Regions from separate parts of the Homo sapiens genome. Here all the other regions are linked to region 2. The links come from fine-mapping of genetic effects on gene expression. A gene starts in region 2. Each other region holds a variant in brackets. All regions are shown on one strand. Distances are from middle to middle.

The links. PIP is the estimated chance that this variant, and not a neighbour inherited with it, causes the effect.
Region 1: its variant is the best candidate, but not a certain one, in a credible set for the expression of DYSF in whole blood (INTERVAL, PIP 0.74).
Region 3: its variant is the best candidate, but not a certain one, in a credible set for the expression of DYSF in whole blood (TOPMed, PIP 0.52).
Region 4: its variant is the best candidate, but not a certain one, in a credible set for the expression of DYSF in whole blood (INTERVAL, PIP 0.75).
Region 5: its variant is the best candidate, but not a certain one, in a credible set for the expression of DYSF in whole blood (INTERVAL, PIP 0.55).
Region 6: its variant is the best candidate, but not a certain one, in a credible set for the expression of DYSF in whole blood (TOPMed, PIP 0.63).

The regions. Positions count from the first base shown.
Region 1 is chr2:71,564,934-71,570,183 of GRCh38, forward strand. It overlaps DYSF (dysferlin), which reads left to right. Exons shown (of 56, transcript NM_001130987.2): 25 at 3,018-3,149; 26 at 3,239-3,405; 27 at 4,887-5,001. Among named protein-coding and RNA genes, the nearest start is that of DYSF, 100 kb to the left of the region's middle. The variant C/T (reference allele first, on the strand shown) is at 2,940.
Region 2 is chr2:71,464,277-71,469,665 of GRCh38, forward strand. It overlaps DYSF (dysferlin), which reads left to right and starts at 2,423. Exons shown (of 56, transcript NM_001130987.2): 1 at 2,423-2,657. The coding sequence starts at 2,567.
Region 3 is chr2:71,167,667-71,173,055 of GRCh38, forward strand. No RefSeq gene overlaps it. Among named protein-coding and RNA genes, the nearest start is that of MPHOSPH10, 40 kb to the left of the region's middle. The variant A/G (reference allele first, on the strand shown) is at 2,772.
Region 4 is chr2:71,183,645-71,189,033 of GRCh38, forward strand. PAIP2B (poly(A) binding protein interacting protein 2B) reads right to left here. Exons shown (of 4, transcript NM_020459.1): 4 at 1-4,891. The coding sequence ends at 4,835. Among named protein-coding and RNA genes, the nearest start is that of PAIP2B, 41 kb to the right of the region's middle. RefSeq lists enhancers at 319-820, 821-1,320. The variant G/C (reference allele first, on the strand shown) is at 2,997.
Region 5 is chr2:71,357,972-71,363,360 of GRCh38, forward strand. ZNF638 (zinc finger protein 638) reads left to right here. Exons shown (of 28, transcript NM_014497.5): 4 at 5,182-5,220. Among named protein-coding and RNA genes, the nearest start is that of ZNF638, 29 kb to the left of the region's middle. The variant C/T (reference allele first, on the strand shown) is at 2,696.
Region 6 is chr2:71,266,213-71,271,601 of GRCh38, forward strand. All of the region lies in intron 2 of LOC105374797 (a long non-coding RNA gene), which reads right to left. Among named protein-coding and RNA genes, the nearest start is that of PAIP2B, 42 kb to the left of the region's middle. The variant C/T (reference allele first, on the strand shown) is at 3,080.

The sequences.
Region 1 (5,250 bases), 100 kb after region 2:
ATGGTGTGGCCTGGCGTGCAGGACACAATGCGGGAGATCCCTCCCTGCACGATGGCTGCCCAGGCCCAAGGGAGGGCCCTCCTTGAAGAGCTGTCAGCAAGGCTGCCCCTGCTTGGGGAGGAGTGGCCCTGAGAAGCAGGCCTGCTCCTTACCTTTTTTTTTTTTGAGTTGGAATCTCATTCTATTGCCCAGGCTGGAGTGTAGTGGTGTGATCTCCACTCACTGCAGCCTCCGCCTCACAAGTTCAAGGGATTCTCCTCCCTCAGCCTCCTGAGTAGCTGGGATTATAGGCGTTTGCCAACCCACCCAGCTCTTTTTTTTTTTTTTTTTTAATTTTAGTGGAGATGGGGTTTCACCATGTTGGCCAGGCTGGTCTCGAAATCCTGACCTCAGGTGATCCGCCTGCCTTGGCCTCCCAAAGTGCTGGGATTCAGGCGTGAGCCACCGCGCCAGCCCTCCTTACCTCTTTTCATTTGCCCTGAATAGCTCTACTAGCATTCAAGGACTCCTCAGCCTAAGGCACCAGACTTTCATCCAGCCTAGTCCACCTCCCCAAAGCCCCTCCACGCTGGACCTTCCCCTTCCCTACATCTCTCCTCCCTCCTCCCCTCTTCCAGGAAGTCGTTGTTGACTTACTTTAGCCTGGAACCCTGAAGCAGAGCCCCCTGAGTGATGCTGATGCATTCATATATTGGCCAGTCCTCTTGTTGTCCCCTGGGGGGTGTGGAGAGGGCAGGTTTCAGTAGCACAGAGGATGCCAGGGCTGGTTGGAGCTCTATGTGGCCTTGGGCAGGTTGCTTAACCTCTCTGAATTGCCTGTTGTCTTATCATCTGTAAAATGAGGGTGGGTGGGGCTGCCCACTTTACAGGTTTTGAGGGTTGAGTTAGGTGACACAGGTGATGGGTCTTGCTGGAACTAAGTGATCAATGGATGTTAGTTTCTCTCCCCACCTCTCCCCTTTTCCTTTTGGGGAGCTCCCCTGCTCTATGCGTGCCATGACTGGAGGCCAACTCAAGGCCAGGGATAGTAGATGTCTGCACACAGTTGTGTGAGTGAGTGTGTCTGTGTGTGTGTGTGTTGGGCAGCAGGCTGCCCCCATCCACCTGCTCACATGCCACCTGGGGCATGTTTCCCATTAGATTCTAACCTCCTGTGCTTGTCAGAGCCTAACCTCTGAGAGTCTACCTCCTAAGCCAGTTCCTGGCCTGGTAGGGCAGAAAGGAAAGGAAGTCAAGGAGTGGCCATATCTGAGTGGGGCTGACCGGGGAAGGCGGTCTGCGAGAGTGGCGGGGGCGGGGCGGGGGGTGCTGCTGAATTGTGCCTGGTGGACTTGCTGGGAGGGGATGAGCTCCAGGTTCTGACCTCTTGGCCATGTAGCCTCAGGGAAATGCAAACTGAAAATTTTCCCTGGTTTCAAGCAAAAAAAAAAAAAAAAAAAAAAAAGATATAGAATTGTTTCTCGAAGTCTTCCCCACTGAGTTTATGAGCCCCGCCAGTAGCTCCTGAGCAAGCTCTACAAAAATGTTGGCAGCAAGCAGAGACCAAGAAAACATTGGTGTTTCTTAACTTAAACCAAAGTTGGAAAAAATGAGCACCAGCAGAGAGAGAGAGGAGCCCCAAACTAGACATTTCTTTATTTGCTGTTGCTATTTTGGGTCCAGCAGGCTGGCCCCGTCTCGGGGAGGACAGGGGAGAGAGCCGGGGGTGGATGGGGGAAGTGGGGGTCAGGCATTCCTGCCATCTCCCTGGGGCTGGTGGTTTGGAGGGTAAAGGCAGTTAACCACCCGGGGGAGAGGACAGCCGAAGCGAACAGCCATGGAGAGGTTTCCCCGGGGCATGACACGTGGACTCAGGGGCTCCTACAGGCTTCATTGAAGATGAACCAAAAGAAGGGGGGCTGTGTCCGCAGGAGGGAAGCGTGAGGTGGCCCTAGCCTTGGCATGTCCTCTGCCCCTTCCTGAGCCTCCTACCTGCCCTGGGCTCTCCCTCCAGGGATCCAGGCCTCCCTGACCAGCGTGGGACCCCTTACCTCAGCTGCCCTTTCATCTTCTGAACCCACCCGTTTTCTCACTTGGCTATACTGCTCTGAGCTCATGACACTAGGCCTGGGTACTTAATGTGTTGCCTCCTCTAGGGGACAATGTGAATTTTAAGAGCAGGAGCTTCTGCTCCTCAGGCCATGTCTGACCTTTGGTTTCAATCAAATGGTGAAGTAATTGTGGAGAATAATTTTTGTTTCATGTTGGGTTGTTGTGGTTATTCCATTTGGCAGAGCTTCTGAAAGTTTCAGGAAAAAAAGCAGTTGAAGACCAGTGAATAGTGGTTGACATGCTGATAATCACTTGAAAGGGTAGGGATATTAGATGATACAGTAACCAAAGAAATAAAATACTAAACATGGAGGGGGAGGCTTTAATTTCTTCTCTTTCCAGATCTGTATCATTGTATCTCCTTTAGAGACAAGTTTTAGAACTGTGCTGTCCAATATGGTAGCCACAGATGGCTATTTAAATTTACATTAATTAAAAGTAAATGAAACGAAAACTTTATCTCCGCAGTCATACTGGCCACATTTCAAATGCTCGGTAGCTACATGGGCCTAGTTGACTACCATATTGGATGGTGAAGATATAAACCATTTTCCTCATAGCAGAAAGTTCCATTGGCAAGCACTGTTCCAGAAGAAAATGGAAGCGAGGCTGTGGTGGGAGAAGGGGAGAGGAGAGGTCCTGGGCTAGACATGGTTCTTCTCTGCAGAGCGCTCCTAGGAGGGAATGATGTAGCCTTTGCCTTTGATGGGGAGGAATCTTGGTGAGGGGTAGGGGGTGGGGTGGACGTTTCTTAATTGCACACTCCCCTTCTATGCAATTCTGGTAAGCGCTCCCACAGGGGACACTCCCAGTGAGGGTGTCAGCCTGCTCTACCCAGGCTTGGAGGA[C/T]TCCTCCTCCCCAGCCTCTCACTGGGACATCCGGATCCTGAAGGGGACTGTGGGTTTCTGTCCTTCTCTGGTACCCAGTATCCGATGGAGAAGGTGCCTGGCGCCCGGATGCCAGTGCAGATACGGGTCAAGCTGTGGTTTGGGCTCTCAGTGGATGAGAAGGAGTTCAACCAGTTTGCTGAGGGGAAGCTGTCTGTCTTTGCTGAAACCGTGAGTACCTGCCAGCCCCCACCTCTGCCTCCCACTACCTGGAGCTGCCTTGGCCCCCTGCTCACGCCTCATTCTTCCTGGCCCTCCAGTATGAGAACGAGACTAAGTTGGCCCTTGTTGGGAACTGGGGCACAACGGGCCTCACCTACCCCAAGTTTTCTGACGTCACGGGCAAGATCAAGCTACCCAAGGACAGCTTCCGCCCCTCGGCCGGCTGGACCTGGGCTGGAGATTGGTTCGTGTGTCCGGAGAAGACGTGAGTCGTGGGCAGGGAGGGCTGGGGAGAGCCAGGCCAGGCTGCCCACCATGGACTGCACCCTCCTTTTGGAGGCAGGCTGGGGTCTGTTGATCCCTCTGCTTGCTCCTGCGCTGGTCATAGGAACTTCCGCTGAACTCTCCCAGGACTGAGGCTTGCCAGGCAGCAGTCCTTTCCAGAAGGGCTTGGATGGTCAGACAGTCCTTTATTCTTTTCATTAAAAAAATTTTTTTTTTTTTTTGAGACAGAGTCTCACTCTGTTTGGAGGCTGGAGTGCAGTAGCATGATCGCAGCTCATTGCAGCCTCAACCTCCTGGCCTCAGGTGATCCTCCTGCTCCTGCCTTCTGAGTAGCTGGGACCACAGGCGTGCGCCATCATGCCTGGCTAATTTTTAAATTTTTTGTAGAGACAGGGTCTCACTGTGTTGCCCAGGCTGGTCTTGAACTCCTGGGCTCAAGTGATTCTCCCTCCTTGAACTCCCAAAGTGCTGGGGTTACAGGCTTGAGTCACCACGCCTGGCCAGGCCTTTATTCTCTCTCTTTTTTTTTTTTGAGACGGAGTCTCGCTCGGTCGCCCAGGCTGGAGTGCAGTGGCGCGATCTCGGCTCACTGCAACCTCCACCTCCCGGGTTCACGCCATTCTCCGGCCTCAGCCTCCTGAGTAGCTGGGACTACAGCTGCCTGCCACTACGCCCAGCTAATTTTATTTTGTATTTTAGTAGAGACGAGGTTTCACCATGTTAGCCAGGATGGTCTCGATCTCCTGACCTGGTGATCCACCCGCCTCGGCCTCCCAAAGTGCTGGGATTACAGGCTTGAGCCACCGCGCCTGGCCCAGGCCTTTATTCTTAAGCCTTCGTTCTGTGTGGTGCCCACTGGGTGTGGCCCCATCCTCAAAGACACCCAGGACAAGCCCATCACCTCCTCTGCACGTGAACCCTTCTCGTGTCTGGGCTGCTCACACATCCCCTGAGTGGTCCTTTCTCTGTCAGTCCCTCTCAGATCCACGTGGTCCTTCTCCATGTCTATTGCCGCCTTTGCCTCTCTCTCCTCTCCTTTTCCTGTTTGGTTGGCATTCAACTCTGTGGTGTTTAACTTTTTTTTACTTAAAAAAATTGAAGTATAACATATTATACAGTCAAGCACTCAAATCTTATGAGCACAACTTGATAAAACTTTATATTTTTACAACTATCCATCAAGCCTCGACTGCCCATCCTCCTTTTGCTGTCTTCAGTTGGCCCCCTTTTCTCTTTATCTTGGGTGATGTGCTCTTTTGTCCCCGATTATCTCGGAGTGTCCCTAGGTCTCCTTTTCACTGTCTGCCTTGGTCTCTTGCACCCTTCCCTCCCCACCCCCCATGTCTCTCATTGTTGGTTGGGGTGAGGCTGACATACGCAGGGGTGCTCTCCAGGAGGTGGTAGATGGATGGGGGCCTCTCCAGCAGAGCAGCAGAGACTCTGACCAGCCCTCCTCCACAGTCTGCTCCATGACATGGACGCCGGTCACCTGAGCTTCGTGGAAGAGGTGTTTGAGAACCAGACCCGGCTTCCCGGAGGCCAGTGGATCTACATGAGTGACAACTACACCGATGTGGTAAAGCAGGCACTCAGGGGCAGGTGGGGTCTAGACATTTGGTCTCTGGAGGCACCTGGTGCTCAGGGACAGGTGGGGCATGTTTCTCTTTGCCCCCTCTTACCTCCGGAGACTTCATGCTTTGATTTCCAAAGGGAAAGTGTGGGGTGCAGTGGTGGCAGGACACTGACTCTGGGGCTCTGCCCTTCTGTCTGGGACTTGGAGGACGTATGTTGTCAAGTTGCATCTTTTCTGCCTCCCTGCTCACAT
Region 2 (5,389 bases):
GTTTCAGGCACTGAGGAAACAGCAGTGGACAAAACAGACAAAAACCCCTGGCTCCTTGGAGCAGACATTCTGATGGGGAAGACAGAAAACAATTAAGACACATGTGCTATACAGTGATTGGTGCTAGAGAAGAAGCCTGAAAGGGAGATGAAAGAGGGAAAGTTGTGGTGTTCAGTTGTGTGGCCGGGTTGGTCTCACTGGAGTTGATATCTGAAGGAAAGGAAGACATGCCAGCCAGAGGGAACAGCTGACAGAGACCCTGGGGAGGCGCTGGTCTGGCCTGTCTGGGGAACAGCTGGAAGGCTAGCATGGGTCCTGGGGAGGTCAGAGAGGTCAGCCAGGGCTTTCAAGGTCACGTAAGGGGAGAGTGGCTGGAGAGGAGGTCAGCGAGGTCAGCCAGGGCTTTCAAGGTCACGTAAGGCCTTTGAGTTTTGCACTGAGTGAGATGGGAGCCAACGGAAGACTTTGAGTAGAACCAGGTCATGAGAATTGAATTGAGGATAGACCATGGGGACAAGGGCAGAGCAGGAGACGCATTGGGAGTCCATGGAGTCGATTAAATGACTCAGGCAAGGGATGACAGGCTTCCACTGGGGGCAGTTACAATGGAGATGGTGAGATATGGTGGGATTTTGGACATATTTTGAAGGAGAGTGGGAGGGGGATTTGCAGTTTTGGTGACCTGGTGGGGTTGAAGGTGTCACTGGGTGGGTTCAAGAGAGAATGGAGGAGGGAGATTGGAGACAGAAAGTATGGAGAGCTCCTTCAAAGGGCATTGTTGTGAAAAGGGAGAAATGACCAGTAGCTGAAGGGGATGTGGGGTCAACGGTGTGCTTTCTTGAGAGCAATAACATCATGCTTGTGTGCCGATGGGATGATCCGGTAAACAGGGGAACTTGGTAAGGCAAGAGAGTGAGAGAATCACTGCAGGCTCACCACTGAATGGGCGAGAGGGGATGGGGTCTATGCCCAAGTGTCCAGTTGTTACCAGTGGGGAGTACGGGTGATTCATTTGTAGGAACAGGAGAGAACTCACAGGATTTGGGCACAGATGCCGAGGGCGGGCGTTAGAAGGAGACTGGGGACCTGAAGAAGTTCTCTGCTCCGTAAAGAGGAAGCAAACTGAGAGTGAGGTTGGGCGATGGGGTGTCCTAGGGGCATCCGGGAGACAGGGAGACAAGACATATAGTATGATTGCCCCCAGCAGTGAGGGCTCGCTTGAGTTAAGGGTCATGACTACAAAAGGCACCACTCAGGCCGGCTGTGTTACTCTCCAACACAGCACTGGTTGGGGGCAGGTGTGGAGGAGGCGGAGTTGGATTCGCCAGGGTTATGGCTTAGCCCTGTGAGAATGCTGTATCCCTCAAAATAAGAGAGGGGAAAGGGAGTTGAGATTTTGCGCAGCAGTGCGTTTAGGCTGAGTGAGCAGGTTGGTTAGTGAGGACTTGGGCGGTGGGAAGACGGACAGTGCCCTGACAGGGGCTAGGTGCTGGAGTGCTGGGGGATAGAAGTGCGAAGCCAGGGCCCCTGTGTCAAGAAGTTCATACGCTGGAAAGGAACCAGACATAATAAGCGAAACGACTGTCACCGTTCATGGCTTACACCTTGAACAGCTTTCCACTGTGGAGACTAGGGAGTGTAGAGATTGTTGGGGATGGGGGACTTGCAGGGGACAGAATGGGCCGCAGCTGGACCCTAGTTCTCCAGGGAACGCAGTATGATTTGAATACAGATCTCTGCCTCCAGAGATGAGTGACTCGACACCGCTGCGGAGAAGGCTCCGAGGAGGGTTGGTGGGGACTCGAACCTCGGAGTCTCTCCCGACCCGGGGGTCCCAGCAAACCAGAACGGCCACCTAGACAGCCTGCGGACGGGAGAGGACCGGCTCCCTGGCGCAGATCATGGGGCAGGTGGAGAGAGGCGAGAGGCAATGAGGCGGGGGGCTCGGGGTGCACGGCACGCTCCGCACACTCCCCCTTCAGCGCTCACTCAGACTTGGTTTCCCCGAAGACACACTCTCGTCCCCGCCGCTGATTGCCCACTCCTTCCGCCTGCACTCCTGCCTCCTTCTCACCCTTTCGTCGAGCGCACAGGGCGGCTGCCAAGTCGGCACCGGTGCGCACCGGGCCCGGGATCCCTGGCTGGTGTGGAGCCTTGGTCACCGGAGGCCCCCGCGGAGCAGGCCCCACGGCGCCTTGTGCGCTCTCGGAGGCCGAGCTGCGCGCCCGCGTCAGCGGCGCCTCGTTCCTGGCCGGGAGCTGGGACCCGCGGAGCTAGGGACCAGCACCCCCACAGGCGCCCGTCTGACCCCTGTCCCTCCCCGCCCGCCGCGGGCAGGGCGGATCTGGGTAGGGGCCGGAGGGGGAGGGTCCGCCCAGCGGGTGTCCGGTGTCCTCCCTGCAGCCTCTCCCAGGCATTGGTCACTTCTCCGCGGAGGAGCAGCGAAGGCGACAGCTCTCTTGGCGCGGCTGCCTGGGAGCCGGGCGCTTGCTGGGTGGGTGCTCGGGCCCGGTGCTCCCGCTCCCGCCCTGACTGCGCGCCTGTGTGCCGCCGGGGCTGCCCAGCCATGCTGTGCTGCCTGCTGGTGAGGGCCAGCAACCTCCCCAGTGCGAAGAAGGACCGGCGCAGCGACCCTGTCGCAAGCCTGACTTTCCGAGGTGAGAGCCCCGTGGCTGCCGCGCCCATGCTCGGGTGCTACCCGACTCTCGGCGCTCACTGGCGGGTCTGAAGCCCCTGCTCCGGAGCTAACCCTAGTCCAGGCCACAGTTTCTCCCTTTGTCAGCAGGGACGGAAATCCCAGCCCCGACTTCTGCAGGGGGGCGATGAGGAATAAGCAGAGCACAATAAATGCCACAGGGCTTTGAAAAATTGGAAAAGCGAAAGTGCCGTAGGTCAGCGGTTATCACTTTTCTAAGACTGACACCCAGAGGAAATAAAGTCCGAGCTTTTACTGGGTAGTGGGGATAAGGGTAAGTTGGAAGATGGGTGCAGAAGGTAGAGAGGAATCAGGGCCTCTGAAAAACGGGGCGTGTAGATGATGTGCTTTGAAAGTTGTGTCTTTTTTCATTCATTCATTCATTCATTCACCCATCTTTATCCAACATTGGCTGTATTGAATCTGCCCCGTCTTAATCAGTAGGAAAAGGAACAGAATAGGATGGAAATGGCCTTGACACAAGGAGTTTTGAGGAATGTCAAGGATATTTTCTCTAAATTCAAGAAGCTAAGTCCCTACATGTAGTGCTTAGAATACATACAGGTATTTCTGTGTGGGGCAGCAGAGAAATCACACACACACTCCTCTTCTCACCAGGCGTCCTGAACCCCCTCCCCCAACCCCTCCAAGGCAGATTCCCACTGGAGCGGGTGTCTCAGGAGGGGAAAGGGAAGAGGAAGGATCTGTCAAAATTAAGAGAAGGAACAATAGCTGTGAGTCAGGACCCCAGTTCTGCAGAGAAAGATAAATCAGGAGAGGAAAGAGGGTTTCCACTTAGCCAGGAGCCATACCCTGTAGCTTTGTGGAATCGATAATAATAATAATAAAAATCTACGTATCAGAAAAGATAGTCAAATGAAGAAGGAAGAGTAGCTGGTGTTTTCATAAGCCTCCTTCAGTGCAGGCACCAAGGGAACTCTTTTCAGTCTGACCCATGATCTGAATCATATCTCCAAGCACCCCCAAGATAATGATAGATGAAAGACATGATTTGGCAAAGGGAGATTTATGTGTAGCTTTTATTCTTTGCTGTGGGACAAGTTATATGTATTCCTCTTTTGAAAGATGTGATTTGAAACGTTTAAGAAAATTTCACTATTTTCATTGATTGGTGACATGCCTGGGAGTTCACTATGCAAGAGCAACTTCAAGACAAAGTCTTTCCTTCTCCAGTGTCCACCTGATGCTGCCTAAGGCTTTGCTATGCAGAAATTGCGGTGTCACCATTGGCTGGAAAAGAAATTCCCTAAGGACACTGGGCAGGGCACACATTAGCATAGGGCTCTGGATGCTCTAACACTCGTTTGGGTCTGCTCACAGCTCTTTCCCTTGTCCTGTAACAGTCCTGTGGTGGCTACCAATGTCTCCATTCTGCAAATAAGGAAATTGAAACCCAGGGAAGTTAAATGTGTTCAGGTCAGTGGTCATGGCAGGGAGCTACCAGCGCTTGGAGTGGGTATTGCCCTTGAGTCGGGAAGATGACCAAATCCCTTGAGGCCCCTCTTTACTATTGCCCTCGCCCAAGTACCCCGAACACGTGCAGCTGCTATCTCCCCCCAGATCTCTGTATTCCTTCTTTGTAATGCCTTACTATTTATTTGCACTGATGATCTCCTCGGAAAACAGAAATACCATACAATAGAATGTAACATCTCCAACCGTTTCAAGTCTATTTGTATTTCAAAGCCCAGGGCAATGCCACCTTCTCCAGGAGGACACCCTGGATCCCCCTGGCTCTCAAGAGTCTCTCCTCTCTGGATGACAAGCAGCAGCACCTTGCTAGGGATGCTAGCACCCTCGCCCTGACTGGCCTGTGCTCAGCTCCATGCTTAGGTGCCTTGAGAGCAGTGACCTGTCCTATTTGTTCATTGGTTTGTCCCAGTGCTGAGCACAAGTAGGTGCTCTCTAGTGTTTGTGCGCTTTCTGGCCCAGCCTCTAGCCATCCTCCAGGTGTGCCTGGGAGCTTCATTTAGTCTGGGACATGGTCCGCTCACTTGATTGTTCCTGAGAATCACTTGTAGAACGTGTTTGAGAAACAGATTCCAGAGTCCCCATCTGTAGAGGTTCCGATGCAGCAGGTCTGGAAGGTGACCTAAGAATCAGCACTTAACAAATACCCGATGCAGGTTATTTTGGAACCGCATCTTGGGAAAAATGGGTCTGAGATGTGATGGCAGGTGAAATTAATGCGCTCCCCATTGCGGGAGCATTCACTGGGGAGTTTGGGGCTGAGTTGATGCCTAAGGAGGGAAACCGTTAGAACCAGGTTCAGAACTTACAGAGCATGTAGGCTGGGGGGACTCAACTCTGGCTGCAGGTCAACATTGTGTGTGGGAGCTTCACCAAAGACCACTGCCAACCTCCCTGCCTGCCTTTTCTGAAGCCAGATCCCTTCCGGTGGGGCCCCAGGCATAGGTGTTGTTTCTGTCAAATTTCCAGGTGTTTTGAATGTGCAGTCAGGGTTGAGAACCACTGAGCCCAGCTCCTCATGGCACAGATGGGACAGTGGCCTGCTTGCAGAGAAGCCAGCCTGCACTGTGTGTTTGGCTCCTACAGGCAGCCTGAAATGTATGGGGCTGGGCTGGCCCCACTTTCCTTGCAGTTGTTCCCTGTCTCGGATGTAATTTCAGGACCTGCCTCCCAAAATAGACTATGAGCTCTGGGAGGCTGGAC
Region 3 (5,389 bases), 300 kb before region 2:
GTTTGGAGAAGTTAGGTTTGAGGGCATCCTCTCTTCTGCAAACTGCAGCAGTAATAGGTGAGATATATAAAGTAAATAAAGGTCAGGTGCAGTGGCTCATGCCTGTAATCCCAGCACTTTGTGAGGCCAAGGCAGGAGGATCACTTGAAGTCAGGAGTTCAAGACCAGCCTGGCCAACATAGTGAAACTCCATCTCTACTAAAAAAAAAATACAAAAATTACCTGGGCATGGTGGTGGGTGCCTGTAATCCAAGCTATTCAGGAGGCTGAGGCAGGAAAATCTCTTGAACCTGGGAGGTGGAGGTTACAGTGAGCCAAGATCGTGCCACTGCACTCCAGCCTAGGCGACAGAGTGAGGCTCCATCTTAAAAAAAAAAAACGAAGGAAATAATTTTAAATTGGAAAGAAAAATTCCTGTACTTGCAGACCATATAATTGCCTATGATGAAAATCCAGAAGAATATACAGATAAATTATTAAGACTAGTAAGAGAGTTAGCAAGGTTGTTGAATTCAAGATCAACTTAAAAAAAGATTAGCATTCCTATACATCAGTAATAACAAATTAAGAAAATGTAATAGAAAAAGAGATTCTATTCACAATAGCAACAAAATCCTGAGAATATATCTAGCAAAATATACACAAGACCTTTCATGAAGAGTATTGCTATAGCCTGAATGTGTCTCCCAAAATTCATGTGTTAAAACTTAATTGCCAAGGTGATAGTATGAAGAAGTGGGGCCTTTAAAAAGTGATTAAGTCATAAGGGCAAGCCCTCATGCATGAGATTAGTGCCTTATAAAAGGGCTTAGGGATGGTGGTAAATCTGCCTTCTGCCACATGAGACCATAGCATTGTCTGCTCCAGAGGAACCAGCATTCAAGGTACCATCTTGGAAGCAGAGACCAGGCCCTCACTAGACACTGTACCTGCTGGAGCGTTGATCTTGTTCTTCCCAACTTCCAGAACTGAGAAAATAAACTTCAGTTGTTTGTAAATTACCTAGTCTCAGGTGTTTTGTCATAGCACTACAAAGGGACTAAGACAAATATAAAAACTACCCAGGGACTTAAAGGAAGAACTGACTAAATTGAAATATATACTGTATATATTATGAATAGTAGGACTCAATGTTATAAACATATTACTTCTCACTGAATTAATCTATAAATTCAAGCAATTCCCACACAAATCCCAATAGAAGTTTTTGTGGAATTTGACAGGCTGATCCTAAAATTCATGTAGTCATTGAGGGGCCAAGAATAGTGTAGCAGACACCATTGGTGCCCTCCCCATAGCCCTCAGCATTGCCAGCCACATACATGCCTTCAAGAGCACACTCAATGTATTCATCATTCCTTTTCATTTCCTGTATTTCCTGATGTTTTGACAGCTGGAGCCTTGCTGATCCTGGAGAGAATGCTCCTCCCAGGGCTAGCCAGTTCCTAGAGATAGTAAAGGACTCACCTGCAAGTGCACCTCCCATATGCAAACCAGCCAATCCAAAGCCCGTAGACCCAACCACTTCCTTCATCGGGCTCTTACACTGGGCCACTGTCCCTCTGCCCTCATCATCCCAGGGCCATGAGCCAGACAACTGGGGAGAGCCCTAGGCCCCAGAGCGGAATGAAATTATTCAAACTATTAATAGCTAATCCTGTGCCTGCTTACCTTGCCTTTCCCTTGGATGCCACAAATAAAGCTCTTGCCCATGTTTTCCCCTCACTCCTTTGACTTCTTGACCAACCCTGGTGCCTCCCTATGTATCCCTGCATAGCATGCCGTGGCTCTTGTTTCTAGGAAACTTTGAGTATAAAAAAACTCTTTCCTTCAGGACAGTCATGTCCATGTCTGTGTGTCTTACCATATCTGATTAAAATAAATGTTCAGTGCATTTTAAAACAGCCATGAGGAATGAGAGTTGGTGGATAAATATTGCAGCTTCCCCACCCCTCAGTTGGAATAACTTTGAAGGGCCCAGTGAGATTGAACCCCAGTTACCCTTTGTGGCAACCTGCTCGTTAATGCACTGTCTGTTAGCTTTCTTCCCTTACCTATTTCACTTCCCACCCTCTTACCTGGGCTTCCTGGAATCACCTTCTAAAAAAATGCTTGCACCCAAATCCTTGACTCAGGCTCTGCTTCTAGTGGAACACAAGTGAATATATATATATATATATTTTTTTTTTTTTTTTTTTTTTTTTGAGATGGAGGCTCACTCTGTCGCCCAGGCTGGAGTGCAGTGGTGCGATCTCGGCTCGCTGCAAGCTCCGCCTCCCAGGTTCATGCCATTCTCCTGCCTCAGCCTCCCGAGTAGCTGGGACTACATGTGCCCGCCACCATGCCCAGCTAATTTTTTGTATTTTTAGTAGAGATGGGGTTTCACCGTGTTAGCCAGGATGGTCTCGATCTCCTGACCTCTTGATCCGCCCACCTTGGCCTCTCAAAGTGCTAGGATTACAGGTGAGAGCCACCATGCCCAGCCACAAGTGAAAATATTTTTAAAGAATGAGAGTAACATAGAGGTCGGTGGGTAATGGAACGTTTAAGATTTGTGTGCATACTATAATGTCATAGGAATTAGGACAGTGATGTGTTGTCAAGGGGATTTACAAATCGACCACTGGAAGAGAACAGGAACCCAGCAAAAGACCCATGACACATGGAAACTTGGAATGAGACAGAAGTTGCATTGTAGATTGTTGGGGAAAGGATGGAATATTCTACAAATGGTGTTGGCACAATTGATTTTCCATATGGAAAGTAAATAC[A/G]ACTAGATCCCTAGTTCACATCATACCAAAAATAAAATCCAGGTTGATTAAAGATCTAGCTGTGAAAAGCAAAACTTTGAAAGCAATTACAAGGAATCGTAGGGGGATATCCTTATGATTGGAGCAGTGTCTTAGTTGGGGCTGCTCTAACAAAATGCCATGGACTGGGTGGCTTCAACAACAAACATTGATTTCTCCAAGTTCTTGAGGCTAGAAGTCCAAGATCAGGGTGCCAGCATGGCTGGTTCCTGGGGAGGGCCCACCTGCTGGTTCACAGAGGGCCATCTTCTTGTATCCTCACACGGCAGAGAGCAAGAAAGACAGGAAGAAACTCTCCTGAATCTCTCCTTATAAAGGTACTGATCCCATCATGCGAGCTCCTCCCTTCTAATTACTTCCCAGGGGCCCCCCCTCCTAACACCATTATATTGGAGGCTAGGATTTCAACATATACATTTTGAGGGGACGCAAACATTCAGTCCATAACATGTAGAAAGTAATTTCTTAAATAAAATACTGAAAGTGGCTGGGTGTTGTGGTTCACGCCTGTAATCCCAGCACTTTGGGAGGCTGAAGCAGGAGGATTGCTTGAGCCCAGGAGTTCCAGAGCAGCCTGGGTGACACAACAAGACCCCATCTCTCTCTTTCTCTCTCTCTCTCTCTATATATATATATATGTGTGTGTGTGTGTGTGTGTGTGTGTGTGTGTGTATATATATGTGCAAAATTAGCTGGGTGTGCTGCTGCATGCCTGTAGTCCTGGCTACTCAAGAGGCTGAGGTGGGAGGATCCCTGGAGGCTGGGTGTTTGAGGCTGCATTGAGCTATAATTGAGCCACTGCACTCCTGCCTGGGCAACAAAGCGAGACTCTGTCTCAAGAAAAAAATATTAAAAGTGTAAGCTCAAAAGAAAAATGGTGATAGATTTGACTTCAGTAAGGTATTTAAACTTCTATTCAATGAAACATACCACAATGATGATTCTGCAAAGGACCTAGAGTGAATAGTAAATCTCTCTTCTATCCCTTCCCCGTCCCAGCCCCAGCTCCCCTCCCAAGAGACAACCAGTGTCTTTTCTGAGCGTGTCTAATTCACACTCAGCATCTAGGTTTACATAGTATTTTAAAATATTTTCATACAAGTATTAGTACACCAGGCATATTGTTCCTGCATCTTGCTGGTATCCTTTTTCTTTCTCAAGACAGGGTCTTGCTCTGTCACCCAGGCTGGAGTGCAGTGGCACAGTCATAGCTCACTGCGGCCTGGACCTCATGGACCCAAGTGATCCTCCCACCTCAGTCTCCCAAGTAGCAGAGACCACGGGTGTGCACCACCATGCCCAGATAATTGTTTTATTTTCGTACAGATATGGTCTCACTATGTTGCCCAGGCTGGTCTCAAACTCCTCAGCTCAAGCCCTCCTCCTACCTGGGCCTCCCAAAGTGCTGGGATTACAGGTGTGAGTCACTGTGCCTGGCCATGGGATTCTTAATAATATGTCTTGGAGATTGTTTCATATCATTATATTTAGAGCTACCTCACTCTTTTAACAACTGCATATAATTCCACTGCATGAATGTATCATAATTTATTTATCCGGTCCTTTTAAGTGGACATTTAGGTTTTTTGTTTTTTTTTTTTATCTTTTTCAGTTATGAACAGTGCTACAGTAAATGTCTTTTTCATATTTTTACGATGAGTTTTTAAAGCCAATGTACTAGAAGATGGAAGGAAGCAGGTTTCTTACCCATTCCATCTCGGACTGCATTTTTAGAGGAAATTGTGCTATCTGGAGAACCATATTTGGCTCAGAGGATCAGGAGTGCTTGGATCCTACCCTGGTCTAACTCTTCCCTCCCCTACAACTAGGCCAATGAGAGATGGAGAAAATAAACAAGGAACATCTCATTCTTAGAGGGGCTGAAAATCTAAGGCCATGCTCTCTGGAGGACACCCCTTCCCATAACCCAGGCTTTCTCTTTGACATTTTGGACTAGATAGACCTCTGTTCTGAGGGCTGTCCTGTGCACTGTAGCATGTTTAGTAGCATCCCTGACCTTGACCCACTAGATACCAGCAGCACCTTCTCCCTAGTTGTGACAATATCTCCTGGCTGAGACCTACTGCTCTAACCCAGCATGGACCTCAGAATCCTACCACCCATAGGCTGGCACAGGGGCAGGAGACTGAGGCCCCAGGAGTGCTTGGCCCAGAATAGGAATGGAAGTGAGATGACCAGGCTTTGCACACCAGGATCAGCCTGTCCTGCCATAGGAGGCTCATGGAGCCAGTGGTACCCCTGAGGGCCCCAAGTGCAGAGCCTTTTCATAGTTGTCCCCCTGCCCATTGGCAGACATGGCCGCGTGGCACCCTGGCATCTATCCAAACATATAGTGACCTCTGCATGAAGGATAGGGTGGGAAGCTGGGGGAGATCTGGAGGCTATATTCATACATGCGCAGCGCAAACCAGTGGAACTGCCTACCACAGGTGGCCTCCGTCAGAATCGGGACAGTAGATGTGAACTCTGCTTTCGTGTCAGGTTCTGAGGACAAAGCTGATAGAGTTGGCATTTTTTCCCCACACTTCTAGATCAGGCCATATTTGAATCCATGATCA
Region 4 (5,389 bases), 280 kb before region 2:
CAAAAACATTAGCTAAGTAAAAAAGCCAGACCCAAGGGACCACATATTGTATGATTCCATTGATTTGAACTGTCCAGAAAGGGCAAATTTATAGAGAAAGTAGATTAGTGGTTGCCGGGGGTAAGAACAGGATTAACTGTAAAAGAGCATGAAGGATCTTATTGGGAGGGATAAAAATGTTCTAAAACTGAGTAATAGTTACAGCTACACCACTGAGGGAAGTTACTAAAATCACTGAAATGTACACTTGAAATGGGTGTTTTATGATATGTAACATATGCCTCATTAAAGTTGTTTTAAGAAAAGGATTCCCTGCCTCCCAAACCATCCTTCAAGCATTAAACATTTTTGGAGGCTCATAATCAACAGGACAGAATAACTACTTAGTGATGATTTACAGAGTGAAATATTTTACTGTTTTGTAGTAAGCACATTTTAGTAACTGTACACTAGTACAATGTTTTTAAGATTTTATCTCATTTTTGTCATATTAGCCTAAAATGTTTATTTTTATTTAAAAAGTAGCCAATAGGAAGGTAAGATTGGGGAGAAAGCTCAGTAAATGTCACAAAAGAGACTCCTAGTAACACAATCTGAGGGAGCTTTTTCTTTTGAAATAAAGATGGTGCATCTGTCCCTTTACAGATTTCTCTCCTGTCCCCTGGGACTGGGGAAGGTGAATCTCCTGCCTGACACCTTGTAGAGATTAGTGTATCCAGCTATTCTATTGCCACGATGCCTCTAAAAACCAGACTGACTGGGAACAGCAGTAGGGGGTTGGCCAGTGAGGGCAGGTGACTAAGTGGTGTGCAGGAAACTCGCATGTTTCCCTGGGTTGGCTTCCTGCTCCCCTGTCCCTGTCACCAATAGCAGCTTCATTGTGAGAAGATTAAAACAAAGGAAAAAAACCCAAAAAAACTGTTTCCAAATTGTAACTAACCAAGTCTGTGTAGGAAATTCACAAGGCAGCAGAGCAGAGGCTGCAGAGGTGCTCTGTCTACCGGGAGAACTAATGATCCCTGTGAGCAATGCAGGGTGCAATGAGTCACATGGGGAAATGTGGACAGAGGCAGAAGGACATCAAGGCCCCCACTACACACCAAATTAGAGTCAATCCTCCTGTTCTCCCCACCCACTTCGCAAACTAATGACGTCCGCGTTATCCCAGAGGAGAGTGGCTAGGGACACTCAGTCCTTCCCAATTATGTGGACGTCTCCAAATCTTGGTCAAATCTGTCAGATTTCTAACAGTTTCAATACCTCAATATCACCTAAACTGAGAAAGATTATTAGCCCGTGATGGTGGGACCCTTATTGACGAAGGCCTGCCCCCTCCTCACAGTTGGGTAGATTCCTGGGTTCCTGATGGTTCAGGAGCCTGGGCTGTCATTTGTCTACCTGGGGTTTGCAGCAGCCCTAGTACAAGAAGATTCATTCGTGCTGTTTACTTTGGCAGCCTCTTCACACAACTTTCCTCTCTAACACGTGTTAATTATCAGAGTATTCACCTCACCTCCTTACTTCCCAGCTTCTCCAAAATCAAAGCAATAGTAATAAACAATTTGGAAAATGTTGCTTAGTATTTTAAGCCATGGTTAGCATTATAACCTTAATTAAAGAGACCCCAGGCTGGGGTGGCTCACCACACCCAGCCTATAATCCCAGCACTTTGGGAGGCTGAGATGGGAGAATCACTTGAGCACAACAATTCAAGAGTAGCTTGGGAAATAGAGCAAGATCCAGTCTCTACAAAAAATAAAAATAATAAAAATAATTAGCTGGCCGTGGTGGTGCGTACCTGTTGTCCCAGCTACTCGGGAGGCTAAGATGGGAGGATTGCTTGAGCCTAGGAATTTGATGCTGCAGTGAGCTATGGTCATACCACTGCACTCCAGCCTGGGTGACAGAGTGAGACTATGTCTCAAAAAAAAAGAAAAAAAAAAAAAAAAGAGGGACCCCAGCTGCTGTGACTTTGGAAACTAAAGGTGTTAACAAAGGTCAAGCCTTTCCTTAGGATCGTTTCTGGTTTCACCCTTATGTGATTCCCAAAACTCAACTATTATTGTCAGAAACTGGCCCAAAGACCCAGGGCTGCATTTGCCCAGGCCTAGGCTGTATCCTTGAATTTTCTGCTGCAGTTCAAAGGCCTGGAGAAACTGAAAATGCATTCATTTGGGTTTTTTCCCTTGAAAAGAAAGAGATAAATTATTTTCATCTTGGAATTTTAGAGTTGAATAAATAATCCCAATAATTACAGATCAATCACTAATAAACTAACATTGGGACCAGCCAGATTGGCAACTGTTAGAAATACATGTTCCATTTCTATACAAATTCTCAAACTTCTAGTTGCCAATTTAAAAAAGTTTAAACAAAGTAGTGGCTTAAATTCAACATCAAAATTACCCCTTATAAATACAAGTCTTACCATTAAAGGGTAAAGGTGTCCAGTCTGGCTTGCTGGTTCTTCTTCTGTGAGAAAAGTCACTGACAGCCAGAGGCTCCCAGCCTTTCCCCAGTGAAGGTCCAACAAGACACACATGCATTTTCTGCTAAGAAGGTAGCAAACTCTAACTAGCCTGTGTTGTGAGTGACAATTGTGCCCCTACCTCCCAACATAAATAGATGGCAAAAAGAGTTGGACTACAAGAGGAACCGCCGGAAGCAGAGTCCTATGCATTTAAAAAAGAATCAATTTGCTAGCTGCTTCCTATACCTGGAGTCAGTATGTTCAGTGTCTGAAGAAGACTAGAAATGCCAGCCCTCAGTGTCCATGCTAAACTGGCAGGAAGTTTTCATAGTCCTGAAGACTGACATCCAAAACAGACCAGCACAGCAGAAGGAAAGACAAGCTCCTTTCTCTCTGCAATCCCAACGCATTTCTAACAGCCTTCGGAATTCTGAGCTTGGACAGGCTCACGAGGATGAAGGAGGAAAAGCAGTCCCAGAAGGGAGAGATTTCCTCTATGCACTTGCAATGCCCTTTCCCTTTTAGA[G/C]GAAACAACCCAGCTGAAAGCTGAAGCTTGAATAAAGAAGTTTCTTTATTCATAGTCCTCTCTGAAAAAGAGTTAACAGTTTCATTCTCTCAACATAGAGGCTTTGGGAATTAATGTGTCTGTCTGGTAATGCAAGTTCTCTAAGCTACTCTCCTATGACATGTGACCTAACAAGGAAGGCAATTTTTTCAAATGATATAATCCTAAAGACTCAAATAGGAAAAAATGTGTATTTTAAATCTGGCATTAGCTTATCACTGTTCAAAAAGTCAACGAGAGCTCATAAGGAGAATTTCTTCAGCTTTCCATACCCTAGTCCTTTCCTTCCAACCTCTGTCCCACAGCCACATACTGAATTTATACCAACTTTGTTTCAAGTTACATATCTTTTCCCTATTAGGCCTATCACACAGCACAGTAGCAATCAGAAAGAAGCCACTATTATCTTCAGGGCTCTCCAATTCCTCATCCCTGGGAGAATGGCCTGGATGGCTCTCCTGTACCCCACACTGCCATCTACATCTCTATACACGAAGGTAGCTCCTGGCACCCAGTTTAGTTCCTTAGGGGTAGCAACAAAAGACCCCAGCAAGTTAAAGGCAGGAAAGACAAAGAAACACACCCTAAGAGGTCAATCTACAAAACTTGCAAAGCTGGGTATGTGGGAACAGTAAAATGTTTTAATAGCTGAAAAGATCCCAGAAGGTCAGGTACACAGTCACATGGGTCAAGCAGGACTCACTTTCCTAGGCTGATTTTGAGTTCCTTTCCATAATTCTGTAATGTGGGAAGAAATATCCAAACTGTGAACTGAGCTTCTTACTAGTGTCCTGAAAAATATTTCCTTAAAAAAGTGCATAAACTTGTCTGAGGGAATTAAGACACCAGGAAGACCAAGTGTTGATGAGGCTGGAAAAAAAAACTGTCCAAATAAAATTAAGACACAACAGATTCAAGGATGACTTCTGCAGGCTCATGCTAATTGCCAGCACAGCAGGCCTCCCCTATGCCTTTGGTAGCAGTATCTTTTCTTAAAAAGGAGGCTGGGGAATAGACTTCATGAAAGATGAGGTGGCAGATCAACCCTAGTGCTCTTCTACTTATAAATGGTGAGTCTGATGGTGGTGGTGAACACAGGCTTATGAACAGGACAACAGTAACTAAATGACTCAAGTGACAACCACCATCACAGCCCTACCTTCTGATTTACAACTTTCAACAATCATCAAAAGTTACTGTAAACTAAGTACTTTAAGTCTGTGTTTTCTTGAATGGGGTTCAGGACAAACAGGCAAGGGCTTGACAGCACATTGGTTATCCGAGTTCATTGCAGGAGACCCCGGGGGTGGGGCAGCTGAGCCTCAAATTCCAGTTTGCACCACCTGCTCTTTCTGCTTGTCCCTTTTCCCATCCAACTCAATAGATTCCACAAAAAGCTCTCCAGGTGCTCACTGTCCCTGATAAGTATACAGCAGGGTGAGAGGGGCATTTCCTAAATATCCAGTTTTTCTTAGTCAGCTTATTTTGTTTAAATACACACCGCGGAACACTTCTGATGAAGGGGGGAAAATGCAATTTCCTTAACTCGAAAGAGCTATTTAAAAAAACAAAACAGGAAACTCCCCAAACAAAAGTCAGCAGAACAAAATAGAAATACTCAGAGGCTTAGAATAAGACTGAGCATATTAGTTACTCAGAGTCACAGTATTGTGAGACCACCACTCCCCTTCCCGCTGTGCACCCCTCGCCCGCCCCATCCCCCTCTTCAGCTCCACCATTTTGTGCATTACTATCCCCAGATGTGGGGACAGACAAGTCTTCCTCAAAGCTTTCTCGGCTCAGTACTTCTCTCCTGGAATAAACTCCTTGGCATCTGGGTTCAGGTTACTTTTGCTCTGAAATAAGAACCAAGAGATAGTAAATCCTAAGGCAAGCTGCATTTTAAAACTTACCCAGTCCATCATTATCAGTACCTTCCCCTTAGCTTTAGGGAGAGAAAGAAAATTCCTTGTAACTCAGGCTGTTATTGCTAGGTTATCTCAACTGCACCTGACATAGCCCTGAGCAAGCTCATCTTCTCCTTCCTTCTTTGGACTCTTGTTTCCTTCCTGATGCTTTCCAAAATCTCATCAGAGGCCTGTAAGTTCAACTCCAAGAATAATTTTTCAATTCACTGAGTACCTTAACTTGGTGAAAACCAGGGTACTCCATCAGACCAGGCTGGATACCACAATCTCTATTTTTCTTCATCTTTCTGTACTCTCTTTGGTTCTCTACTCTCTTGTGAATATCCAAAACCTTAGCAAACCACAGGGCAAGATTGTTCAGAATATGAGTTGTATGAAAACTATATTGCTCACAGACTTTTTTTTTTTTTTTTTTTTTGAGACAGT
Region 5 (5,389 bases), 110 kb before region 2:
TATTTAGAGTCCAGAAGTCTGAAATCATGGTGTTAGTTGGGCCACCATTCCCTTCCGAGGCTCTGGGGGAAAATCTGTTCCATGCTTCTCTCCTAGTTTCTAGTGACTGGGGACAATCATTGACATTCCTTGGCTTGTAGCCTATCATTCCTATCTCTGCTACTGTCTTCACACCACCTTCTCTTCCCTTAAACCTCCCTATGCCCTGCTATTAGAAAGACACTGGCTATTGGATCTAGGGCCCATTGGATAATTCAGGATGATTTCATCTCAAGAATTTTAGTTTGATTACATCTGCAAAGATCCTTTTCCAAATCGGGTAACATTCACAAGTTCCAGGGATTGGAACATATATATGTATGTATCTTTTGGGGAGCACCATTCAAGAATCCATTTTAATCAGTTTCCCCTAATACCAAATCGCTCTCTCGTCTGGGCCTTGAGCAGTGCTTTTGCTGCCAAAAGCAATCAAGAGCTGAAGCTGAAAATGAACAGTGTGTGTATTAGCACCTGTATGCTGGTAAGAACTGCAACTGGATATATCCTTCGATCTGGCATCCTCTGGGTCAGTTTCCACTTTTTCCTATTGTGGGGCTTAAGGGTTCTTTCGTTACACAGGTAACTGTGGTTTGAAATTTAAAATAACAGTATGTCTTTCCTAATTCTCCAGGCTGTGTCTCCTAACCAGGCCTCATGATGCCTTCACAGTTTCTTACCTTCTGCACATTTTTCTTCACCTGGCCTCACTCTGATCACAATGGCAGATCCAGGGCCTCCCTCTTCCCTTGTCTCTACTGGGTCAGTCAGGACTCTTTCCTATCGGTGCCATTTTTCTAACAGCATGTGCTCACTTTGTGTCCCTGAGTCACACTCATAGTATTTCAAATTTTTGCATTATTACTATACCTGTTAATGGCAATCTGTGATCAGTGATCTTTGATTTTGACTTGCTGAGGGCTCATGATCAGTATTTTTTAGCAATAAAGTACTTTTTAATTAATACATGTTCATTTTTAAAAACATGCTATTGTACAGTTAATAGACTGGCATAGTCTAAACATAACTTTTATTTGCACTGGGAAACCAAAAAACTTATGTGACTCGCTTAGTGTGATGTTCTAGAACTGAATCTACAGTATCTCTGAGGTATGCCTATGTATCGATATATGACAGGGGATTTACTAGGGGAATTGGCTTACACAATTATGGAGGCGGAGAAGTCCCACAATATGCTGTCTGTGTGTTGAAGACTCTGGGTTTCTGGTAGTGTGGCTCAGTCCAAATTCAAAAGCTTCCAAACCAAGGAAGCTGATAGCATAATTCTCAGTCTGAGGCAAAAGGCCCTATAGCCCCAGGAGCCTGCTGATGCAAGTTGCATAAGACTTGGAGTTCTGATGTCCAAGAACAAGGAGGAGAAGGGCATCCCGCTCTGAGGGAAGGAGGGGTGGAGAGAGGGAATTCCACCTTCTTCCATCTATTTGTACCATCTGGGCTCCCAGCCTATGGCGTGATGCCCGCCCACATTGAGGGCAGATCTTCCTTACTCAGCCCACTGACTCACAGACTAATCTTCACTGGAAACACTCTCACAGACATGCCAAGAAACAATGCCTCACCAACCATCTAAGCATCCCTCAATCTAGTCAAGTTGACACCCAAAATTAACCATCACATTCAGGTTGTATGCACTTGAATAATTGCTTCATAACTTTCTCTCCACTGCAAAATAATTTAATAAATAGATTTGGTTAGGTGCTTGGGATCTGCATTCTTTATTCTTTTAAGCTGTGTTATAGGGATATACCTTCTTTCTACTCATTCCTCCATTGATGTATATTTAGATTTTTCTTTTCTTGTGGCTTATTCTCTCTGGCTTTATTGGCTCTTTCTGGATTATGATACAAGAGTAGTTGAGGAAAGATAACAGTGCATCAGAATTTTAATATTAAAAATAGGTAATTATGCTGTGTTTATTGTGTGCTGGGCATTCTTAGTGCTTTACATAATTGATTTAGTCTTCAAAACCATCTACGAGGTGTTAAGTATAAGGATTATTCCAGACTTTATCAATGAGAGAAGTGAGGCACAGAGACAATTTCCCTACCATCATGCAGCACATAGTTAAATGGAACTAGTTTAGCTCATGGGCCTTTATCATCCCTTCTACTTTTTTATGGCTTAAAAAATTTTCAGAATAAAATATTGAAGAGAAAAAGGAAGAAAAACATTTATGTGTTCTTCATCTATATTCACCATTTGTTAATATTTGCTTTATTATATCTTCATACATTTTTTTCTGAACTATTTGAAAATAAATTGCAGACATTATGGGACATCATTTCTAAATTCAGCATGTATCTCCGAAGTATTAGGATGTTCTGCATAACCACAATACAACACATTTAAGGAAATTAACAATAATTCCACAGTTCCTTCTAATATATAAGCCAAATTCATATTTTCCCATTTCTTTCCAGAATGCCTTTTATAATTCTTCTTGTTTGCCCCATCCATACCCTCAATCCAGTATTCAGTTAAGATTTATGCATTACAGTCTCTTTTAATCTAGAATAGCCTACTCTTTGTTTCGTTTGTTTTTTGTTTTGTTTGTCTTTTTTTTTTGTTTGAGAAGGATGTTTTTGTGGTGTTGATTTTTTCCTTGAAATGTCTGGGAAACTTGTTGAATGTCCCACTT[C/T]CTATAGTTTTCTATTTGTTTCCTTAGCATTAAATTCACTGAGAACATTTTTGTTGCAAATGCTTCGTTGGTGATGTGTATTTATTGCATCACATTGGGACAAAGATAATATCAGTTAACTAGGTCCTTGCTCTTAATAGTTAATGTTATACCACCTTTGTTGGGAGCGTTATTGCTTCTGAAGCACATTTTTGACTAGTTGGGCAGTATAGAGGTGTTTCCAAATTCTGCTTGCAGAATGTATACATGCTTTATCTTTCTGCTCTGGGCAGCAGAGATGAGAACATGTGTTACCTAGTGAACAGGTCTGAACTTGGTGAACCTGAACCTAATGAAGATCAACAATATTATTTATTGCTATCTCAGCTCACTGCAACCTCCACCTCCTGGGTTCAAGTGATCCTCCCACCTCAGCCTCCTGAGTAGCTAGGACCACTGGTGAGTGCCACCACGCTCAGCTAATTTTTTGTATTTTTGGTAGAGACAGGGTTGCCAAAGCTGGTCTCAAACTCCTGAGCTCAAGCGATCTGCCTACCTCAGCCTCCCGAAGTGTTGGGATTACAGGCATGAGCCACCATGCTCCACCATTATTACCAGCTCTTGAATATTAGTCTTCAAGCTCTTGTGAACCATAAACTAGAGACCCCCTGGAAATTTAATAACTTTGATGTGTTGTTAATCACCTTCATTTCCAGCATATACATGTGAGAAAGCTAAGGCTTACACATTCTAAGTAACTGGCTTTAAGTTTCTTAGCCATTAAATGACAGCACCTATAGTGAAACCCAGTTTTGTTTGATGATTAAAGATTTGCTTTGAATCACTGTAAGACTAGGAATTTATCCTCCTGGGTGGTACAGAGCAATGAAAGTTTTAAAAAGTGTGGAAATAGATGAAACAAAATTATCCATATATTGGGAATTGTTGACACTAGATGATGGGTATGTTGGATTAAAGTTAACTTTTTTGTCTTCACAGTTTGTCCTCTCATAATTAAAAGATGCTCCAGACAATATATCTATTCTCAAAGTAAGAAGAATGAGGCAGACGCTTTCTCAGATGTCTGTCAGGGGTTTTGTACCTGTATCTCATTGGTTAGAACTTACCACTGGCTGTCTTCTAGAGATAGTGGGAAAGCAAATATTTAGCTTTTTTTTTGCCATTGTAATAAAGGCAAACAAGGGAAAAGGGAATTGAGAATTGCTGTGGGGTTAGCTCATTAACAATGTCTGAGGCAAATAGCAACCAAGACAAACCACTTTAATAAGGTTCGACCTAACGTTATTTTCCTGCTAGGTGATTTGTCAGAAGTTTGCTGCCTCCATTTCCTTACCTGGCTTTCATCTTGCTGCTGAAATTTTATTCTTAAATGTAGTGATTTATTTATTTAATATAATCAGCATGTCCAGATGCCTCTTAGAGTTCAGATTTTCTAGAAGTTGAGAGTGAAGATACAGCCTTTTTCTTAGGCTTCTATGATATTACTGTTTCTCCTACTAGTTTTTCCGTGATTGCTTCTTAATCTTTTATTATTTTTTTTCTTTGCTTTACTCTAAAGTTGTCGATGTGCCTAAGATTCTGTCCTCGGCTCTCTTTTTTCCTATAAACTTCATCTTGTGTTAGTCTCACTCTTAGGGCTATAATTGCGGCTTCTACATGCCTGATTTCTAAATATCTCAGCTCTCATCTTTTCCCCTAATTCCAGATATTCCTTTACACTTATTCTGAAAACATTCCTGTTATCTTCTCTTACAAATGTTCGTTAAGTTCCCATTGTTTTTTTCCTGTGTGTAACCTCATTACCTGATTTTAAGGCTCTTCGTAATTTGTCTCTACCTGAAACAACAGACAGCCTGTCCAAGTTTCCCCCTTTATAATTCCTTTTCATCATGTCTATGCTGTAGCCAGACCACTTCCTGGAACAAAACACCGATGTTTTGCCTCCAATCTTAGTTTACATATTGCCACTGCATGAAATCTAACCTGATCCATTCCTATTAATAGATCTTTGTAAGGGCTACTTGAAAAGCAACCCTTTCTATGAGTTCTCTCCTGATTCCTCTCAGTGGACATATCTTTATGAGGACTACTTGGGGCAAGTTAAGGGGCACCATTCATGTTGTATTCTGTGAGTTGCCATATGGAATATGATAGGAGTGGTGTTCCCTAGAGTTCTGTAAAGTAGATGAACTGTCTTCTCTCTTTTAACCCTTAACCTAAGCTCGTATCTTGTACCTCTTAACACTTCTGTGCATATGCTGGCCGGTTTACTTAAATGAAAGTTTAGGCCTTTAAAGTATGGGGAGTGTGTTTCCCTGATACACCTATTAGCATAATACTTTGATTATTTATTGAATTAAACTCTCAAAATATTTTATTTCCAATAAAAGTTGTGAAAAGTCCTTTTGATATATTACAGGTAAAGATTAATTGAGCCTTACAGTCTGATTTTAGCTGTTAGTTAATATTGTTTATTTTCAAAATAGGTATCCTGATTGGAATCCTGAGATCCTCCCATCGAGAAGGTAATTTTTAAAAATAGTAATATTATTAAAACCTGATTGTCTTTTAAAAGTAAACAGTTAATTTTAAGAAAGTGATTCTTTTGAGTTCTACTTCTGCCATTTAAACAACAGGCAAATGCAAAAACCTCTATGAATCTTTAACTTATTCCAGCTTAAAGGTGACACAGCC
Region 6 (5,389 bases), 200 kb before region 2:
GGTGTGAGGTGGTATCTCATTGTGGTTTTGATTTGCATTTCTCTGATGGCCAGTGATGATGAGCATTTTTTCATGCTTTTTGGCTGCATAAATGTCTTCTTTTGAGAAGTGTCTGTTCATATCCTTTGCCCACTTTTTGATGGGGTTGTTTTTTTCTTGTAAATTTGTTTGAGTTCATTGTAGACTCTGGATATTAGCCCTTTGTCAGATGAGTAGGTTGCAAAAATTTTCTCCCATTCTGTAGGTTGCCTGTTCACTCTGATGGTAGTTTCTTTTGCTGTGCAGAAGCTCTTTAGTTTAATTAGATCCCATTTGTCAATTTTGGCTTTTGTTGCCATTGCTTTTGGTATTTTAGACATGAAGTCCTTGCCCATGCCTATGTCCTGAATGGTATTGCCTAGGTTTTCTTCTAGGGTTTTTATGGTTTTAGGTCTAACATGTAAGTCTTTAATCCATCTTGAATTAATTTTTGTATAAGGTGTAAGGAAGGGATCCAGTTTCAGCTTTCTACATATGGCTAGCCAGTTTTCCCAGCACCATTTATTAAATAGGGAATCCTTTCCCCATCACTTGTTTTTGTCAGGTTTGTCAAAGATCAGATAGTTGTAGATACGTGGCATTATTTCTGAGGGCTCTGTTCTGTTCCATTGGTCTGTATCTCTGTTTTGGTACCAGTACCATGCTGCTTTGGTTACTGTAGCCTTGTAGTATAGTTTGAAGTCAGGTAGCGTGATGCCTCCAGCTTTGTTCTTTTGGCTTAGGATTGACTTGGCAATGCAGGCTCTTTTTTGGTTCCATATGAACTTTAAAGTACTTTTTTCCAATTCTGTGAAGAAAGTCATTGGTAGCTTGATGAGGATGGCATTGAATCTATAAATTACCTTGGGCAGTATGGCCATTTTCATGATATTGATTCTTCCTACCCATGAGCATGGAGTGTTCTTCCATTTGTTTGTATCCTTTTTTATTTCATTGAGCAGTGGTTTGTAGTTCTCCTTGAAGAGGTCCTTTGCATCCCTTGTAAGTTGGATTCCTAGGTATTTTATTCTCTTTGAAGCAATTGTGAATGGGATTTCACTCGTGAATTGGCTGTTTGTCTGTTATTGGTGTATAAGAATGCTTGTGATTTTTGCACATTGATTTTGTATCCTGAGACTTTGCTGAAGTTGCTTATCAGCTTAAGGAGATTTTGGGCTGAGACAACAGGGTTTTCTAGATATACAATCATGTCATCTGCAAACAGGGACAATTTGACTTCCTCTTTTCCTAATTGAATGCCCTTTATTTCCTTCTCCTGCCTGATTGCCCTGGCCAGAACTTCCAACACTACGTCGAATAGGAGTGGTGAGAGAGGGCATCCCTGTCTTGTGCCAGTTTTCAAAGGGAATGCTTCCAGTTTTTGTCAATTCAGTATGATATTGGCTGTGGGTTTGTCATAGATAGCTCTCATTATTTTGAGATACGTCCCATCAATACCTAGTTTATTGAGAGTTTTTAGCATGAAGGTTGTTGAATTTTGTCAAAGGCCTTTTCTGCATTTATTGAGATAATCATGTGGTTTTTGTTTCACTGTCTTGAACTCCTGGCTTCAAGTGATCCATCCACCTTAGCCTCCCAAACTGCTGCCACCATGCCCGGCCCTAATTTATTTCTTTGTCATAACAGATATTATTTCTATAATAGATTATTTGCATTATATAGTATATTGGTGTGTGTGTATATATATACACATATATACACATATATATACACATATACATACAGTATATTATATACTATAACCATATAGATATCAAGCAGACTAGATGCTACCATAGGAGAATTTTTTTAAATCTTGGGGATATGATAGCCTTTCTAGGAAAGAGTAAAAGCAACAACAAAAAACCCTAGAAAGTTAGAAAAAGTAATGTGACTATATGAAAATCAAAAATAATTCAGCCAGGCATGGTGGCTCATGCCTGTAATTCCAGCACTTTGGTAGGCCAAGGTGGGCCAATTGCTTGAGTCCAGGAGTTTGAGACCAACCTGGGCAACACTGCAAAACCTTGTCTCTACAAAAGATTAGCCTGGCATGGTGGCACATGCCTGTAGTCCCAGCTACCTGGAAGGCTGAGGAGGGATGATCACCTGAGCCCCTGAGGTTGAGGCTGCAGTGAGCTGTGGCTGCCACTACACTCCAGCCTGGGTGACAGAGTGAGACCCTGTTGCAATAATAATAATAATAATAATAATTCACTGCAAAAATACAGTAAACAAGCCAAAAGACAAAGGGGGTAAAAGATAAGTAATTTATTCATATTGGACTACTTTCATTATTTTATATATATATATATGCATGTATACATATCTATGCACTACAATTTTTAAAAAGACCAACAACTGAATAGAAAATTAAAAATTAAATTTGATAATGTACTGTATAGAGACGTGTTGAAACAGTGGTCCTGACAAATTGTTATGGGAGCCACAACTGACATGAACTATATATGGATATTAATTTGGTAACATATATGGAATGTTTTAAGTCCGTACCTTACAATATAGTCAATACATACATATATACATTTATAATTTTTCTTAACCCATGGAATGTCTTTGAAAGGATATGCAAGAAACTGGTCAACAGTGGTAGTCTAAGAGGAAAGAAAGCTGGGGGCAGGAGGCAGTGGAGGATGAAAACTGTCTTTTCACTGCATATATTTTTGACACAATTGAAAATTTTAACCATGTCATGCATATTATCTAGTCTTCTGTACAAAAAAAAAAGGAAAAGAAAATGACATGTGGATATAAGACTGAAAGATTTGAAAGCTGTTGCAAGATGGCCGATTAGAAGGAGCTGCAGTCCACAGCACTCACTGAAGGGAATGTAAAGGCGCGAGTGAATTCAGCACCTTCAACTTAAATATCCAGGTTCTTGCATTGGGACTAACTAGGCAAATAACTCTACCCACGGAGAATGAAGAAAAGCAGGGGGCAGGGGACGACACCCCATCTGGGAGCTACAGGGAGCCAAGGGAACCCCCATCCCCAGCCAAGGGAAGTAGTGAGTGATTGTGCGACCCTGCCTGGGAAACCA[C/T]GCTTCTCTCACAGATCTTTGCAACCCCATGGATCAGGAGTTCCCCTCCTGAGCCCATGCCACCTGGGCCTTGGGTCCAAAGCAGAGAGCTGTGTGGAATCTTGGCAGAGCAGCAGCTGAGGCACACACAGAGACTAGGGAGTTTTACATACTCCAGCCCCGGGATCCCTGGCAAGGTGGGAAATCCCTCCCTACATCTCCTTGGGAAGGGGGCTGAATGCAGGAAGCCAATCAGCATCATTCTGTGGGTCCCACTTCCATCGTACCCCACAAGTTAAGACCCACTGGCTTGGAATTCCAGCCAGCCAATGGCAACAGGCTGGAATCTGCCTGAGATGGGTCTGGGTTCCAGAGAGGGAGGGGCGGCCGCCATCTCTGCAGTTCAGTAGCAGACTCAGCTGTTCCAGCCTAATGGCTTTGAAGAATACAAATAGTCCGAACGAGGAAGGGTCCTCCACAACGCAGCACAGCGGCCTTGCTAGATTGTGGTCTGACTGCTTCTTTAATCAGGACTCTGATCCATTCCTCCTCATTGGGCGGGATCTCCCTCCAGGGGCTTCAGACACTCCAGCCAGGGTTCTAAAATAGAACTCTCATCCCTCTTTGGGATGGAGCTCCCATGGGGAGGGGCAGCTGCCATCTCTGTGGTTTGGTTGACTCAGCCGTTCCAGCCTGCTGGCCAAAAGACTACAAATGATCTGGATGAGGAAGGGTCCCCCCAATGCAGTACACTTACTCTACCAAAAAGCAGCCAGACTGCTTCTTTTTTTTTTTTTTTTTTAAATGGAGTCTAGCTCTGTCACCAGGCTGGAGTGCAGTGGCGCAATTTCAGCTCACTGCAACCTCCACCTTCTGGGTTCAAGCGATTCTCCTGCCTCAGCCTCCTGAGTAGCTGGGATTACAGGCATGCACCACCATGCCGGGCTAATTTTTGTATTTTTAGTAGAGACAGGGTTTCACCATATTGGCCAGGATGGTCTCGATCTCCTGACCTCGTGATCCGCCCACCTCAGCCTCCCGAAGTGCTGGGATTACAGGCGTGAGCCACCGTGCCCGGCCCAGACTGCTTCTTTAAGCGGGTCCCTGATCCCGTTCCTCTTGACTGGGTGAGACCTCTCAACAGGGGTCTCCAGCCACCTCTTACAGGTATGTTGGGGCAGGCAACAGGTCAGTACTCCCCTGGGATGGAGCTTCCAGAGGAAGGAGCTGGTTGCCATCTTTGCTGTTTTGTATCCTTCACTGGTGATACTTCCAGGTATGGGAAAAACTGAGGCAACTAGGGTCTCGAGCAGACCCCCAGTAAACCACAGCAGCCCTTTGGTAGAGTGGCCTGGTTATTAAAAGTAAAACAAACAAACAAACAGAAAACAACAACAACATCAACAAAAAAGACTCCACAAAAACCCCATTCAAAGGCCAGCAACCTCAAAGATCGAAGGCAGATAAGCCCACAAAGATGAGAAAGAATCAATGCAAAAACACTGAAAACTCAAAAAGCCAGAATGCCTCTCCTCCAAATGACTACAACACCCTCCAGCAAGGGCACAGAACTGGGCTGAGGCTGAGATAACTGAATTGACAAAAGTAGGCTTCAGAAGGAGGGTAATAATGAACTTTGCTGAGCTAAAGGAGCATGTTGTAACCAATGCAAAGAAACTAAGATCGTGATAAAACAATACAGAAGCTGATAGCCAGAATAGCCAGTTTAGAGAGGATCATAACTGATCTTATGAAGCTGAAAAACACAACATAAGAACTTCACAATGCAACCACAAGTATCAATAGCAGAATAGCATGAAAAGGAATGAACAAAACCTCTGAGAAATATAGGATTATGTAAAGAGACCAAACGTATAAATGATTGGGGTACCTGAAAGAGATGGGGAGAATGGAACCAAGTTAGAAAACCAACTTCAGGATATCAACCAGGAGAACTTCTCCAACCTGGCAAGACAGGCCAACATTCAAATTCAGTAAATGCAGAGAGCCCCAGTAAAATACTCCATGAGACCATCAACCCCAAGATACATAATCATCAGATTCTCCAAGGTTGAAATTAAAGAAAAAATGTTAAGAGCAGCCAGGAGAAAGGCCAGATCATGGCTGGGCGCGGTGGCTCAAGCCTGTAATCCCAGCACTTTGGGAGGCCAAGGCGGGTGGATCACGAGGTCAGGAGATCGAGACCATCCTGGCTAACATGGTGAAACCCTGTCTCTACTAAAAATACAAAAAATTAGCTGGGTGTGGTGGCGGGCACCTGTAGTCCCAGCTACTTGGGAGGCTGAGGCAGGAGAATGGTGTGAACCCAGG